2 separate regions of the Homo sapiens genome follow, and region 1 is linked to region 2. The links come from fine-mapping of genetic effects on gene expression. A gene starts in region 2. The other region holds a variant in brackets. All regions are shown on one strand. Distances are between the middles of the regions. Region 1 overlaps HDDC2 (HD domain containing 2). Region 2 holds the start of HDDC2 (HD domain containing 2).

Evidence for each region.
Region 1: its variant is fine-mapped to the expression of HDDC2 in whole blood (INTERVAL, PIP 0.99).

Annotation. Positions count from the first base shown.
Region 1 is chr6:125,268,752-125,277,428 of GRCh38, reverse strand. HDDC2 (HD domain containing 2) reads left to right here. Exons shown (of 6, transcript NM_016063.3): 5 at 189-327; 6 at 1,186-2,079. The coding sequence ends at 1,283. It overlaps LOC124901395 (a long non-coding RNA gene), which reads right to left. Exons shown (of 2, transcript XR_007059736.1): 2 at 1,509-6,913. Among named protein-coding and RNA genes, the nearest start is that of HDDC2, 29 kb to the left of the region's middle. The variant A/T (reference allele first, on the strand shown) is at 5,110.
Region 2 is chr6:125,298,365-125,306,677 of GRCh38, reverse strand. It overlaps HDDC2 (HD domain containing 2), which reads left to right and starts at 4,711. Exons shown (of 6, transcript NM_016063.3): 1 at 4,711-4,829; 2 at 6,019-6,140; 3 at 7,862-7,964. The coding sequence starts at 4,746. RefSeq lists a cis regulatory region at 3,008-3,188 and a silencer at 4,682-5,021.

The DNA.
Region 1 (8,677 bases), 29 kb after region 2:
AGAGTCCTGGTGTTAGGCTGTGAAATTACAGAAGTGTCTCTGATGGATTTCTAAACAGTAGAGAAATGGGGCCGATACAGAATGTACTTGTAGCTGTCACTCTGATTTCGGGTACCAGAGTCAGAATTTTCCCAGGATACCCTATTATGCAGCGCTAATCATGCTGCTTTAATTGTCCCTTTACTTAGGAGTACGAGACCCAATCTAGTGCAGAAGCCAAATTTGTGAAGCAGCTAGACCAATGTGAAATGATTCTTCAAGCATCTGAATATGAAGACCTTGAACACAAACCTGGGAGACTGCAAGACTTCTATGATTCCACAGCAGGTACTCAACACCATTTTCAACAAGAGTCCATTTTAGTTTGGCTTACTCAGTGTAGTGACTAATGTTAATATTAGGGAAACCCACTGTTGGTACCTTCATCTGACCCTTTCATGTGGAGCATCTAAAAAGAAAGGGAAGGAAACATTCGGGTAAGAGGCTGAGGATAGGAAATAAATGGAATAGAGTTTAATGTGGAATGAACAGTAAGCAACAACAGACACAGGCAAGAAAAGACGGTGAGAGAAGAGATGTTGGGTTGAACAGTCCCCCATGCTAGCCGTCATGGACATACAATAGCTTAGAGCTTGGTTGCTACCAAAGCAGAAATCTGGGGAGGTCTGAGGAGCAGGGATGACAGCACAGATCAGCCAATTGAAGTGTAGAGGTGTTTACAAGAGAGACACCTGCATCCTTGTTTACATCATGAGCCAGCCTAGCCCCTCTGATCTTCCTCCTTGTCTTTTCATATATAGGTGCTTCATTCTCCTTACTTAATTGCAGGTTTGGAATGGGCAGAGATTGTCTTCAGCTTTCTGGGCTCTCACACCTGAGTTTTCCCATAGTTCCTGGTAGAGGCACTGAGGAGCCTGGTGAAGTTTCCCCTACCTCTGCCTAATTGATGATTCCTTGCCTGAGTCTCATCCTTATTCTCAGTTGCACCTGGGGTGACAGAGCGTAAATGCCAAGTGGTCCCCTTCAGCCCCTTCCCAGGACCTGGAATCTCTTTCTGCTTTGGAATGAAGTGTGGGTCAGATCGTAGACTAGAGCCCCCAGTGAACCCTGGGATCAAGCTGGGGAAATGAATATACTCTCTTGTCAATATGGGAATGTATTTTTCCCTGTTCTTTTGCTTTGCAGGAAAATTCAATCACCCTGAGATAGTCCAGCTTGTTTCTGAACTTGAGGCAGAAAGAAGCACTAACATAGCTGCAGCTGCCAGTGAGCCACACTCCTGAGACACTCTCTAAATTGCTGCACTCCTGTAACAAACATTATTTTTCCATTTCATTGTATTGTGTTTTGCCATTGTTGGTCTGTTGATTTCCCTAGATGTGAGTCTGTTTGTTTTCAATTGTCTGAACTTCAGCAAGAAATGTGATACAACTTGGGCACTAAAAGAAGCCACAGAACAGGAAGCGGTCATGAAAGTGCCATGGATGAACACTGGAGGTGGCAGTGCCTGTTTATGAACTAAATAAATAAATATTAAACACCTAAAATATTAGAATATTTATTGGAGATTTAAAATCATCTTATTCTGACTTAATTACCGATATCCCCGAAGGCTAGGTTCATTGAATAATAGAAAATTTCATTATGATTGCTTTTAAGAACAGATTCTTCAGCTGATTTAGTGATAAGAATCCAGAAAAGAAAATGTACTAGTGATGTATTCTCTCCCCAGATGAAATTGCTGCCTTATTCAGATTTACTCTCTTGAGCCAGATTTTGAATTTCACTGCAGACTGCTTCAGACTTCTAATCATAGGCTTGTAAACCTACTAATAGGCTCTGCCCCTCTTCCCAATACTTTTTGTCATTTAGAGATATAAACCGGGGCATATAAAAATGCAACTTGTATTCCTTTGTATATTTTTCCCTGTCTGACTTATAAATCTTGAGACCTTTATTGTAAAAGCATGTATCATCAGGTGAGAAATATAAATAGGAACTGGGGTCATTGAGCCTCAGGTAGGGAATATATCAACCCGATTTCTTCCTCTCTTTTCCCTTTTATAGGATAAATAATCCACCCTGTCTGCCTTTACATTGAATAGTGCAAAAAAGAATACGATTTCTGCAAACCTGCCCAGTGTTTTGGTGTGGAGCAATGATGCTTGTCCCTTTAATTCAAATGTCACTTTCCATTTGAAGGCCTTCGAGGCTGGCATGGTGAAAATTCTAGGCAGTGTTTCTTTGGAAACTCTTTGCGGTATCCATGGATACCCAATCTGCAGGAAGCAAGGTGCATGATCTTTTCAGAAGCAACACACATATGTATGTGTAATTGCTCTGTATCAAAAAGAAGAAAGAGGGTAAAGTCCATTACTGGATATATGGTTAGTAGGAAAACAACTCCATCTATTAGGATTGTGGAGTTTTTCCCTTGGCATGAAAACATACACACAAAATAACCCCAGATAAAGTTCAAGTATTTATAACCAGAAGGTGTTCTGTGGCCCTGCAGTTTTATTTTCAATGTTTTGTCTACCATAATTTTCATAAATAGCTAACAAAACAATTCACAGAGAGACTTTGGAAACTTCTACTGGGTTAGACTTTATAACTAGTCACTTAACCATTATCTCAGTTCATCATCTACCTACGAAATGGGAGTTTTCAGTTAGTCCTAAACCTTCCTTCCTGAGGAAATACATCTTTTAAAGAAAGAAAGAAAAAAATATAATAGTGTTATAAATAAAACATTTGATGATAAGAAAATAACAAAATGAAGATCAACAAAATAACAGCTCCTGAGCCTACCAGCAATGTCTATAAATGAGCATTATTACTTAAAAATGTTAGTCCTTAGAAGATACCTGCCATTTGCCTAGACTTTGTCTTCTGAATGACAACCCTATAATTACAATGCAGAGTAAATAATTATTCATGGTTTGAACTCAAGAAAAAAGAATTATTTGTTACTGTTTGTCAGATTCTAGCCCAAACTGAGGTCCAAAGGGAGTTGGTGGGCTGGTGGCAGGTAGCTGGAAAAACTTGAGGAATCGTAGGCAGTTTTGACATGGCGTTATTCTCTCTCTAGGCGCGAGCCATATGTACAGCATCAGCAGGGTAGTTAAACCTTTTAGAGACAATAATGGATCCCAGCCAAGCACAGGCTCATGTGAATGGTCACCTAATGTGCCTCACGTGGCATGGTTACATAATGTGTAGAGTTGTGTGCCTGCGTTCCAAACCCACTGAGTCATGCTGTGCCAGAAGGCTGCCTCAGCCTACTCCTGACTAAAATGCAGCCATTTCCCTTACACTCCATCCCCTAGGCTGAGAGGAGTCTTTCAGGTAGGGATACGTGCCCATAGGGTGGAGCCCTGAATCCATAACCCACAACACTACAGAGAGCAACAGCTCATTACCAGGATCCCAGCTATGCTACTTAGGACTGTAAGGGCCCAGCGTAGGCCACAGCCCAGAGATGCCCACCATCTCTGCAGGGGGTTGTCAGTAAGGCTCTCCACCACCTTAATCTCCCATGAGACCTCTTGCAGGGCTGCTGTTATGTTCTGCCAATTGTCAGGGATAAAGGTACAACATTGTGTTCCTAAAAGGGCACAGGTGCCTCCTTGTGCAGCAGGTTACTATGTCTAAGGCCATTCAGTTTTGCAATACCACCTTTCTCATCTGACCAGCCTCATCCATTAACAGGAGGAGGGCCACTTGGGTGTAATTCAGAGCCCGAGTGGTGTGCTCTGCAAGAGCAGTAACTTGTGCTTCTACAGTTGTGACACCCGCCGCAGGGATAGTCACTGTCAAGGGGTAGAACCACTGGGGAGCTCGTCGCACTCACAAAAAATGAGAGTGTAGCGCCTTCCAGTTATGCAGTGTCTGGGCAATGTGGAGAGAACAGTGGCCACCCCCAGTTCCAACATTCCGTCCAGTTCACTGGTAGGTAAGGCCACCCTGTGTGCCCACAGACCCATAAACTCCCAGGGGGCACAAAGTCCCTTGGGGCCCAAACTTGGGGGCTGCTTGTTCCAGCATACCTTCAGTATGGTGACATGTGTTATGTTTACACAGGCTGTGATGGGTACCTATCCCACAGTGGTGTTACCCCAGTGTTGCTCTATGCTCTGCGACACCTGGGCTGGGGGTACTACATGTTCCCCCGCTAGCCAGCCCCAGCCATCATAAATGCTATGGGCCAGCCACATGATGGGAGCACCATGGATCTTGCAGCGTCCTTTGTCCAAAGCTTGCTGCGTTGCATTCCAGATGTCAACCACGGGACCCCAAGTCTCCAGCCATGTCCAGTTCTCTGTAGACACTGAATGTATATGCCAAGGCAAGTCATCTGCAGCTGCTGCTGGAAGGGCAGTGCAGACCCGAAAGTTGGAAACATTGATCACCTCAGCACAGGTGTGGGCGCAGTTTACAATGCAGTTGGAGCATGTTAACCTATGGCCAAAATGACAGAGCAGGCACAGCTACTAACAGAGGTAAGTGACGTCCCTCAGGCAAAATACAGGCTAACTTTTCATCCATGGATAACAATGCAGCTGCCAAGAGCTTCTGCCCTGGGCGATGGTACCACACCTTCTCAGCTCCCCATGGTTCCTATGGGTCCGGTATCTATGCCAAAGTCAAGGGGAAGCTCATAATAGGCCACACAGACAGTACTTATGTCCCCCAGAGGAGCGTTTCTTCCCTGGCTGTTGCCCTAAGAACAATCAACCAAGGGTGACATGTATTGAATGCCCAAGGAGTGACATGCAAGTCATACTGTAGGTCTTCCCCACAGGGAGCTACAACGGCCAACCACCAGCAGTGGGGAGCCTGGAGGGTCCATGGCCAGAGCCAGGTTTTCTGTTCCCCTCCCTTCAGGGGCATTGGGGCAAGCAACAAAAGGTTACCGTTCGTCCCCATACCTGGTCGGAGGAGGTCATCCTTAGTGTGTATCTGCAACTGAATAGGGGTGGTGGCCCAGTGTAATAAAGCCTCCACCAGGGCTGGGCGGTCTTTCCATGGCTGTTCATTCAAGGTTTGAACCACCAGGTCCAGCTTGGAACTCCAGCACTGCAAAGACGGGTGTGACATGCAAGTGTA[A/T]CCCATTCTTCAAGAGCCCTTTATATTGCTCAATCATACCCACAGCTTGTGGGTTGTATGGCACATGGAATCCCCACTTTATGTCCATTTGTTGTGCACATTGTTGTACCTGTTGTCCAGTGAAATGGGTGCTCTATCACTCTCTATGGCCAGAGGGCAACCATACAGGGCACATAAGTGTTGCAGGACCCGGAGGATGTGCTGTTGGTTGGCCACCCTGCAAGGGTAGATGTACAACAGGCTTGTGGCCATGTCCACAGCTGTTAGCACATGTGTATACCCTTGCAATTTTGGCAGCGGACCGATGTAGTCTACTTACCACCTGGTCAAGATCACTCGCCCTGTTGTCACTTGTGTAAAAGTGGGCAGCTGCCTCCATTTAGGGTATGACCAAGCACATACTGGGCATTTCTGACGAGCCTCCCAAATACCTTGCATGGGCAGGGACAGACCCCAACACTTATTGCCCTGTTACATCAGTTTGCCCCTGGCATGTCCCAGTTTCTGGTGTAGCCAGAAGGCCACATCTTGTGTTGGTGCCGACTAACCATTGGACCTTGGCCAAGACATCTGCCTCATCATTGCCAAAGGTGGCCAAAGGCATATGGCCTGACACATGATAAATAATTACATCTTTCTGATGATCCATTTCCCAGAGGTCTTGCCACATCACTTGGCTCCATGACATAGGTCAGTGGCTGACTAGCCAATTTTGTATTTTCCAAGTAGTTAACCACAAGGTTAAGCCTCGGTAGGCTGCCCAGCTATCGGTACAAATCACCATAGATATCTGCTCCTTAGTGATCACCATCTATACTGCTGTAAGTTCAGCCCATTGGCTACTTTGCCCACACCTGGTTTCAAACCATATGGTGTCTGTACTAGGTTGGACTGCAACAGCGGTCCAGGCAGCATTAGATCCTTGGCTAGACCCATCTGTGTACCATGCCCCATCAGGAATGGGGGGTACCCTTCCTTAAACGGTGATGGCTTGGGGTCTAGGGGTGCCCCAGGCCCTATAGCCTTCTCTTGCATTAGGACTATAGGTCCCAAGACCTCTTGCAATTCTGCTGCCAAGGGTCTTGTACTCAGCAAACTTTGCTGCTCCAAGTAGGTGCCCCACTTTGCCAAAGTAGATGTCTGTGCCATCCCAGTCCAGGGGGGCATTATCCATGAACACATCCATCCCACTATTGGGTAAGCCATCCACATGATGACTGTAGCCCATCCTGTCACACTTTCACAAGACTGAAATGCTGCATATACAGCTGCTAGCTGTTTCTCTATCAAGGACTGTTGGAGCTCAGCTCCTTTCCACAGTTAAGACCAAAAGCCTACTAGTGTTCTCAGGCACTCTGTATGCTGCCACAGGCCCCAACTGAAACCATCTGTGCTCACATGCACATCCAGCTCAAACAGGTGCCCCTGGCCAACTACCCATAGGGCTTGTGCCTGCTGAATAGCCCACTTGGCTGCCAGGAAAGCGGTCTCAGCCATATCCCAATTCCAGGTAGCTCTCTTCTTTGTTAACCGTGCAACAGTTTTGTCATTTGAGCTAAATGGGGCAGAAATGCCCCCCAGTATCCCAGGAAGCCCACAAAAGTTTGTAGCTGCTTCACCGTGGTGGGCCAGGGCTATGCCTGAATTTTGTCAATAATAGCCTCTGGTATGGCCATCATCTTACCTAGACAGGAAACTTCCAATAATTTGGCAGATAATCCAGACCCTTGGACCTTGGATTCATTGATGGCCCAACTGCATGCTGCCAAATGTTGCTGCAAGAGAGGCACCGCCACATCTAAATCTACAAGAGAATCAGAGGTTAACATATCATCAATATAATGGAATAGGTGGACCCCTTCTGCACATTGCCAAGTGGCTAAATCCATGACAACAAGACCATGACATATGGTGGGGCTATGCACATAGCGCTGCGGCCACATTGTAAAAGTCCATTGTTGCCCTTGTCACGTGAAGGCAAACTGTTCCTGGCTCTTGGAGCAATGTCGATGGAGAAAAATGCATTGACCAAGTCCACCACATAGTGGTACTGTCCCAGTTCCATTGTCAAGCAGTCCATCAAATCCATGATTGACGGTACAGCTGCACTCAAAGCGGGTGTTACTTTATTCAGTTCCTGATAGTTTACCGTCATCCGCCTAGTTCCATCAAGCTTTCTAACTGGCCACACTGGAGAATTGTAGGAGCTGTGGATGCCACACACTATCTGCACCTCCTCCAGCTTTTAAATTGTCTCAGTTATCTTCATATGCCCACCCAGCAAATGGTATTGATGGGTGGAAGTAACCAGTTGGGGTTGTGACAGGACCTGAGGCTTGTGATGCCTATGTCCTTGCAGCACCAGCTTCACCAGATGCACTAGGAGTCTGAATTCCCTGGCCGTAGTTTGTAACGCCAGGCCATGTAAAATGTCCACCACCAGGATGTATTCAGGTATGGGGGAGACATACACAGTATATAAACAGGGAGCCAAGTGGCCAATGCCGAGGTACAGAGACACAGGTTTCACTTTCAGTAACCAGCCTCCATAAACATAAATGTAACAGCCTTGCCCAGAAACTTATCTGATTCTCATACACAAGGCTACAATCTGTGCCAATATCTACCAGCACTGACACCCGCTGTACGTTAGTGGGGGACCAGTGAATTGCTAATTCTACATGTGGCCACTGGTCATCTGGTGTCCCCCCAAGCTGGGCACATTGGCCAGTTCCCTAATCAAACAGAAAAGGCTCTACATTTCAGCCTGGCTGCAGCAAGTAGTCCTTGAGTTGGAGCACCTGGGCGGGAATGGGTCACGCAGCAATGTCCTTCTTCCCCTTGGTATTTTCCAGAATTGCTTCTCTGGAGACAAGTGTCTCCACAAAGTTAAGAATACTTCATTGGGCAGTTTATTGATTTTCTCTCAGTCAACCCTGGACAAAATCAAATCTACCCACATCTGTGAGTGTGTCACTCATTGGGGCCCCCTTTTTGCCCATGCGGGAGCCCCCTGTGGGCAGGGCACCTTCCTCTTCTTTATGGTGTGGACCCCTCAGTCCCACCGATGGCCTTCTGCTTCCCCGAGAGCTGCTATAGCAGTGGTCACTTCATGTATGCGGTGCCCTACCTACAGGGTGAGGACAGCAGCTAGGAAGCCAAAGGTGCTCGGGGGTGCAGAGGTAAACATTCATCACCTGGCCCCCGGGTATTCAGGTCAAACATAGCCTGCCATATAACCATCGCCCAGATGACTTGCACCAAATCAGCATATGACTGCCATTTACTCACAGTTTCAGTTATTTCACCAATGTCATTTCACACAGTCCATATGGCTGCCCAAAGCCACTCAATCAGGGTGTGGTAACCTTGCCCTGCCACTAGCCACCTGCTTACTTGCAACCACTGAAGGAGGGAGGGGAGTCATGATGGAGGCCAGCTTTTCCATCCCAGAGGCAGAACAGGGATACTGTCTGCTCCCTCATCCCACAAATGAAGCATGCAGTTGGGCAGGGGTTCCCCTGGACACTGGCGGCACTACTTGCCTAATTCCTGCAACTCAGTTGGG
Region 2 (8,313 bases):
TACTATATAACTCATAAACATAGCATCAACTTTCTCTGGATTATAATTTATTGATGATGTAAGGAAAGTAAGTTTAGGCATCTCATTTTTAAACATATAGAGTGTAGTCTCCCAATCGTAGCATTATTGATGTTTTGTGCTGGATAACTGTTTGTTGCAGAAGGTTGTCATGTGCTCTGCAAGAATTTTAACAGCAGCCCTGGCCTCTGCCTCTCATTTGCTCCTCTCCTCCTCTGCCTCTTTTCTGCGACAACTAAAAATGTATTCCAATATTGCCAAATGTCCCTTTTGAGTAAAACAACCTGGATTGAGAACAACTGATGTAAACCTTTTTTATCAAGGAATATGCAGCAGGCCGATGCGGCACTTCTTCCTTGAATACCTTAAAGGAACAAATCTCTTTAGTAATCTCCCAGAATGGACTTATGAATATTTTCTGACAAAATTTCTCAGATCAATCTATCACTACCTATTTTCTTGCCCAATTCTTCATATAAATAAGTTTACAAAATCCATTCCAGGCATGTAATCTCATTGAATTTCCACAACATTAAGAATTGGGTACTAATAGCCACTGGGGAGCACCAAGTGCCACAAAAAGAAAGATTTGGAAGGAGACAGGCTAGAGTTTCAGTGCTTGCACCGTTTCCTGGCTCTAAAAACTGAGGCCAATTCTTTAGCTTTGGTGCACCTCAGTTTCCCCATCTGGAATGTGGAATCATTAATACCTTGGAGTGATAATGAGAGAATAAAACAAGATGAGAGATGTAACAATGCTTCACACTAACAGAGGCTCAATTAGCTGTACCTTTGATTATTATCGCTCTGAGTCCAGAGTTTTGTGTACTACATCACAGATACATAGCAGATTTCTCAATAGTGGCAGATTTTGCCCCTGTTCTGGCCACAGACCACTTTAAGAATCTTCTAAACAAAAAAAATTTCATAAGCAACACAAGTTGTAGACAATTTCAGGGTATCCACAGGTTCCCCTGAAATGTATATTGGATCCAAGTAAAGAGTCCCTCTAACGAGAGCCTTCTAATTTCAAACATCTTTCCTTCCAATTGACTCAAGTACATTGTGCCAAATCTCCTTCCTTGCTCACTGCTTTAAAATGGAACCACCTTCTGTGGAAATAAATTGATTCCTATTTCCTCTAACCTAATGCTAGAGGAAGATGCTTGACCAACACATCATTGAAATATGTCTTTGGTTTTGTGAAATAGAAACAGGCTTTCCAATTTCCCTTCTTCAGCAGAAAAGGGGAAGAAGGGTATTTGGTAAAAAGGGATTCAGGACATCCAACATGATTATCCACTGTATTAGTTTCCTATTACTATTGTAACAAATTACCATAAACTTAGCACAAACTTATTATCTTACAGTTCTGGAGGTCAAAATGGGCTGCATTAAGCTAAAATCGAGGGGCGGGCCACACTGCATTTCCTCCTGGAAGCTCTAGGGGAGAATCTAATTTTCCTGTCTTTTTCAGCTTTTAGAGTCTGCCTGCATTCCTTGGCTCATGGCCCCTTCTATCTTCAAAGCCAGCAATGGCCAGTTGAGTCTTTCTCCCATCACATCCCTTTGGCATTCACTCTTCTCCTTCCCTTTTCCATCTTTAAGAACCCTTGAGATTACATCTCACTCATTGGGATAATCCAGGATAATCTCCCTATTTAAAGTTCAGCTGATTAGCAAAGTTAATTCCATTTGCTACCATTCTCCTTTGCCATGTAATATAGAAATATTTGCAAGCTCTGGAAAAATTAGATATCCTTAAGAGGCTACTATTCCACCTTCTAGAGTCAAACATCTTGGTCTTTAATGATATAGTAGGAATAAACCTTGTTACGAACCCTGATGAACATCTTCAGTTTACAAAAGCAAGAAGTCGGCACTATATTTTGAGTTTTCACAGTAACAATTTACTTTTAGATAGTAATGTCCCCTCCAAAAATCCATATCATCTTTAAATAGTGTCCCTCAAAAACTATTTATACTCAATTCATAATTTTTCAGCAACTTGACGTCTTCCAACTTCTGATCACTTAGGAAACTGGAGAAATTCTTTACAGCTCACTACACAAAGTTAAGATAACTCACGTGTATTTTGCAAAGAAAGTTGCAAATACAGACAGAAATACCCATGGAAACTAAATCAAGCCTGCATGAATCAGGAGGAGCTCAAAGGAAATCAATGCATTGTTGGCAAAAGAAGACAAGGCTGCTCAGAAGGAACCGTAAGGGTTACACTGCACATTCACCAGCTAGCTTGCAGCCCCATTGCTTCATGGCACCTATCTCTTGAAAGCCCCTTACTACATCCTTCAGCAAATCCAACATCCTCATCTTCCTTATTCTCCTGGATCTTTTTGGTCATTTGCTTTCGTGTTCCTCCAGTGGACTGTCTGACTTTGCCTCTGATTCTTGATCCTTCTTTTTAAACCTTGATCCCTCCATTTTTTAATTTTTAATTTTTTAGAGACAGGTTCTGTTTCCCAAGCTGGAGTGATCATAACTCACTGCAGCTTCAAACTTCTGGGCTCAAGTGATCCTCCCATCTAAGCCTCCCAAGTAGCTGGGATAAAGGCACAAACCACACCTGGCTTGATATTTCCTTTATTTAGCACCACTTACCATCATAAAAATGGCTTCCAGGTCATTATCCTAACCACGTTTAATACAAGCCCCAATGTCCTTGGCATTTATTTGGTTCTTAGTCATATTTAATCTTGTTGCTGAACCAGTCTTCAAAAAAATTATTTCATGCCTTCTTTCTCCTTGTATTAGTCCATTCTTGCATTGCTATAAAGAACTACTTAAGACTAGGTAATTTATAAAGAAAAGGTATTTCATTGGCTGTACAGGAAGCATGGCTGCAGAAACTCACAATCATGGTAGAAGGTGAAGGGGAAGCAGGCATCGTCTTCACCTGGCAGAGCAGAAGAGAAAGAGAGCAAAGGGGGGAAGTGCTACACACCATTAACCAGATCCCATGAGAACTCACTCACTATCACAAGAACTGCAAGGGGGAAGTCTGCCACCATGATCCAATCACCTCCCACCAGGCCCCTCCTCCAACTTTGAGGATTACAGTTTGACATGATATTTGGGTGGGGTCACAGAGCCAAACTATATCACTCCTTAAACCTCAAATGCCTCCTCCTCTATTCACAAACATTCTAGCCTCCTTTCTTCCCAGAGGCCTAGCAAGATTGCACTCCACAGGCCCCCTTTGAAGTTAGACGTGGCAGTGTTACTTATTTCACCAATGATACGTAGACAAAAGGTCATATATCACTTCCAGAGACAGGCTTTAAGAGCCAGAGTGCCACTTTTCTTTTTTCCAATTTTGGCAAAAGAGAGCAAAGAAAGCCTCCTAGCTCCCTGAGTAAGGTTAGAGCAAGCAGCATCCTCTAGCTGATCTACAATAGACACTTAGCATGAGAGAGAAATAAACCTTTGATGTGTTAAACTGCTGAGATACAGGAAATAAGGAGGTTGTTTGTTATTATAACATCCCAGCCTATACTTTGCTTCCTAATTTGGTGAGAAAATAGAAGCAATCAGAAGAGAACTTCTACAACCTCCCATGACCACATGTGCGACTGATTAGTCACCCTATACTCTGTCCTCCTCCAATATTTGAATGAATTCTCCATATTCCTATCTAAAGCCCATCTTTTATCTTGTACACCAGATGGGAATATTTTTCCTTACTCAAGGCCGACATTCAAATATTTCTCTTCTTTGTCTCTTACATAATCAATGTTTCCCTTTCTACTAGATCCCCTTCATCAGTAAACATACATAATATCTCCTGTTTTGAAACAATCTCTCCACTAGTTAACAGCACCCCAACCCCATCTCCAATGTGCTGTAATACTTGCTCCTATTCTCTTCGGAATTATCTCACTAGGTTCTGCTTGGCCCACTACACTGAAAACTGCTTTTGTCAGGGTAACCAATAATATTGAATTTACTAAGTCTGGAAGTCAAACCTTGGTCCTCACATTGACTTGGTTGACCATATTCCTTCCTTCTTGAAATATTTTTGTACATGGCTTCCAGGACACAACTATCCTACCTACTAATCCTCTTCCTACCTCACTGGCTGTTCCCTCTTGATCTCACAAAGCCTAAATGTTGGGGTTCAGGTCTTGGGTGTCTTTTCTTCTTCATTCACACCCTCTTGCCAGGTGACCTCATCCAGTTTCATGGTTTTACACTGTCAACTGAAGAATAACGAGGTTCATAAATTTAGAAAGGAGAGCTTTATTTTTCATAAAGAGTACTGAGTGTCAAGTATGTGCCAAGCAAGGTGTCTGCCACTGACGGAGCAATGCCCAAGCAGCGGACACCAAGGCCAAGAAGGCGAAGGCTGGACAGAAGGTCCTGAGAAAACCGTGAGAATATGGAGGAGGGGGAGGAGGAATAAGAACAGGAGGAGGAGGGGGAGGAGGAATAAGAACAGGAGGAGGAGGAAGAGGAGGGGGAGAGAGGAAGAGGGGCAGGAGGAAGAGGAAGAGGAGAAAGCGGAAGTGGGGGAGGAGGAGGAGGAGTTGGAAGGGGAGGAGGAAGAGGGGGAGCAGGAAGAGGGGCAGAAGGAAGAAGAAGAGGGGGAGGAGAAAGAGATAGAAGAGTAAGAGGAGGGGGAAGAAAGACAAGGGGAAGGGGAGGAGGAGGAGGACGGGGAGGAGCTTCGCCGCGGCCTGCTCCGCCCAGCCGGGGTCGGTGGCCGCATGGCTTCGGTCTCCTCTGCGACCTTCTCGGGCCACGGGGCTCGGTCCCTACTGCAGTTCCTGCGGCTGGTAGGGCAGCTCAAGGTGAGCGGGCACCAGGCCGGGAGGCCGCGGCCGAGCGGGCGGGACTGTGGGGCGGCGGAGCTTCCGGCCTCCCCGCTCGGCCGGCGGTCTTTGCCCTTCCTGCGCCGCGTCCGCCACGCCGAATTCCGGAAAGGCCCCAGTCCTGCGGATGCGGCCGCGCGTTGCCGACGGTGGACGGAGGAAGCAGCCGGCGGGACAGGCTGGCCAGCTGGGGCGGCCCGGAGTCTGAGCCTAGAGCCTGGCGCCGCGAGGTCCGCACTGCAGCCGCGCCAGTTCCCGGAGAGCAGCCGGCCTGGCCCTGCCTGCACTGAGCTTTTCCGGGGCTCACGACCCCAGAACTCGTGTGTGTGTGTGTGTGTGTGTGTGCTCACGACCCCAGAACTCGTGTGTGTGTGTGTGTGTGTGTAAAGCGCGGCTGCTTCTGAGCACGGGTGGGAAGAACAGAATCTGTCGGCTCCTCAGATTTTAAGTGGAGCTTTTTATGTCTGTCTCACAGTTACTTCCAGAAACAAGACTTTTCTCCCGGCCACCCCCCAAACGGGATTTAATGTAATACACACGAGTTTCATCATGTGCGTCTTCCCCGTCTCTCTCCCAAGTTCAAAGTAAATTATCCGTTTCATGCCACTCTGACTACTATTTATAACATTCCTTAGAGATGTAGAATTCTGAGGAAGAAATGCAGTTTCACAAGATGAAGTTATGATGTGAATAAAAGGAAGAGTCACGGCTGGTAGCATCAAGCAATTAGAAGTGCCCTTATCCCTTGTGCCTCAGAATTTGGAAGCCTATCACTCGTTCACGTTCAGACCCTTCAATACAGTGTTTTCTGCTTGTGTAGGATTATTTGAAGGCAAAAAGCCGCAACTCTTGTTCGGAAAAATGCAGTTTTGTTTTTGTTTAAAGGACTTGCATATGTTCCATAATTATACATCAGTAACAGAATAATTTGACGAATGGACTTTGTGACTTATCTCTCTCTGTCTTCTACCCCTTTCATTCTCTGAGCTCTCTAGTTCATTTGATTCCAGATGTCTATCATTTTAGCTAGTTTAGCAAAACATTTTGTAATAGGTTCTGAAATTATGACCCGGCTTCTGTGTGTTATATCCTGGACATCTCTTGAAGAGCATAGCAGATAGTTAATATTTGTTCTTTAAAACTTCTTTTTCTTCTTCATATTTATCAGAGAGTCCCACGAACTGGCTGGGTATACAGAAATGTCCAGAGGCCGGAGAGCGTTTCAGATCACATGTACCGGATGGCAGTTATGGCTATGGTGATCAAAGATGACCGTCTTAACAAAGACCGGTAAGCTGAGCTGGACTTTGATGCTCGTGAGAGATTCTGGTCTATGGGTGTGCACCCGTTTTTACTACTGAGACCCATGTCAAATCCTTGTAGGTTAGTTTATAGGTCAAGAAAAATTATTTGAAGCAAACCATACAAATTTAGGATGTGGGTTATGTTGCCTCAGTTGTTGTAAACTGCAATCTGGGGTTTCTGTTGGCAAGTGATAGAGCCTGCCTAGGGTATCAGGGGAAACTTAAGTGTGATATTGGGGCCTTGAAGGTGAGTGTGTTATGTCTAAAATTCTAGCATTGTATTAGTACACTGTGTGCTCTTTCCTAGTGCCTTTTATGGATAGTAGTATCCATTCGTGAGGCTTCCTTTTGGAGTTGTGTGTGCAAGACATAGCTGAGAAAGAGGTATCTTCTCCCCCTTCATTTAATCGACAAGTGTTAAAATGCTTTTTGAGCACAGAACAAAAGTTTACTAGCATGTAAGAGAGTAAATAAATCCCAAGTGAATTACGCAGGCCCAAAATAGCTTCTGTAAGAAGTGAAATGTAAGTTATGGTCGAAAATGTTAAGTATTGTAAGAGCAGGGGAGATCACCTGTTCTTGGTTGATCTTAATGGAGGAGGTGCAATCTGAGTTGAGCTCAAAAGGGTTAACGTAGCCAGAGAGGTAGGAGAAGTCACTGCATGCAGAGAGAAGGGCAGATAAACCAAAGCCCTGAGTGTAGGAAAGTAAAGGAGTATTTTGCAAATGAGAAATTAATCAACTTGACTGCAGCAAAGAGTTCATTTGGGAAGCCTGAGGAGTCCTCTGTTACTCAGCAGATGAAGTGGAACTGAGGAGGTTTTTGGCAAATGGTACAAGGTGAAAATGAAGTCCAATAGAGATGCAGTTTGGAGTAGTCTGGGATTTGAACTGGACCAGAAAGAGACTAGAGGCAGGGAAATCTCAGAGGACACTGTTGGGCCTTGTACTGCCTTGGTAGTGTGGGGAGCCTAAAACATACTGGCCCTATGGGGCATTTATCTCATTACTTGACTTCCTGTTTTGATGATGAATTATCACAACCACTATTCCTTAACCGCTAATAATCATAACCACTTATTGAATGATTCACATGTGTCAGGAACATGAAAGTTGTCAAATGTAATCTCGTTTTTTTTTGTTGAGACAGTCTCACTCTGTCGCCCAGGCTGGAGTGCAGTGGTGCAGTGTCAGCCAACTACAACCTCCACCTCCCAGATTCAAATGATTCTCCTGCCTGAGCCTCCTGAGTAGCTGGGATTACAGGTGTGTGCCACCACACCCAGCTAATTTTTGTATTTTTAGTAGAGATGGGGTTTCACCATGTTGCTAGGCTGGTCTCGAACTCCTGACCTCAGGTGATCCGCCACCTCGGCCTCCCAAAGTGCTGGTATGACAGGCGTGAGCCACCGCACCTGGCCTATTAGCCTTTTAAAGTGAGATTTCAGAGATAAACCATTTAAGAAAAAAAATTAATGCTAACAATTTCCCCTATACTCACATGTATTTTATTGAATATGAACTAACAGTTTTGATCAGAACTGTTGTAGGCTGGCAGAATATAACTACTTTAGAAAATACTACATTAAAATACTCTGTGAGGGTGGAGAAAAAATATATATATTATATAACTTTGGAAGAGTATAGAGAAGGAACTTGTAGTAAATATAATTCTGTGTAATTATTCGACATTTCTTGCCTGATCAGATGTGTACGCCTAGCCCTGGTTCATGATATGGCAGAATGCATCGTTGGGGACATAGCACCAGCAGATAACATCCCCAAAGAAGAAAAACATAGGCGAGAAGAGGTCAGTGTTGACTATTGACTGTGCAAAAAACCACCAGAAAAACCTCTTGCTGAAGCAAAGCTAAGTTTATGAGACCTGTTACAGTTAGGGAGAATACCGCCTTGATAGTCTTAGTAGTGTCTTAGGAAGGGGAAGGTCAGGGGAAGATATTTTTAGAGATTCAGGGCCTGGGCTGGAGAATATTAAGATGGATCTGACAAGTTAGGCAACTAGCTGGGATTGCACAGTTTAGGATATAATAGATTTAGATTGGTAAACATGTGAAGGAAGGTCGTAATGAGTTTTGAAGAATAAACTGTTAGTGTTGACCCAGTTTTAGGGGGTTTACAGCCTTATCTTCCAGAAGCAG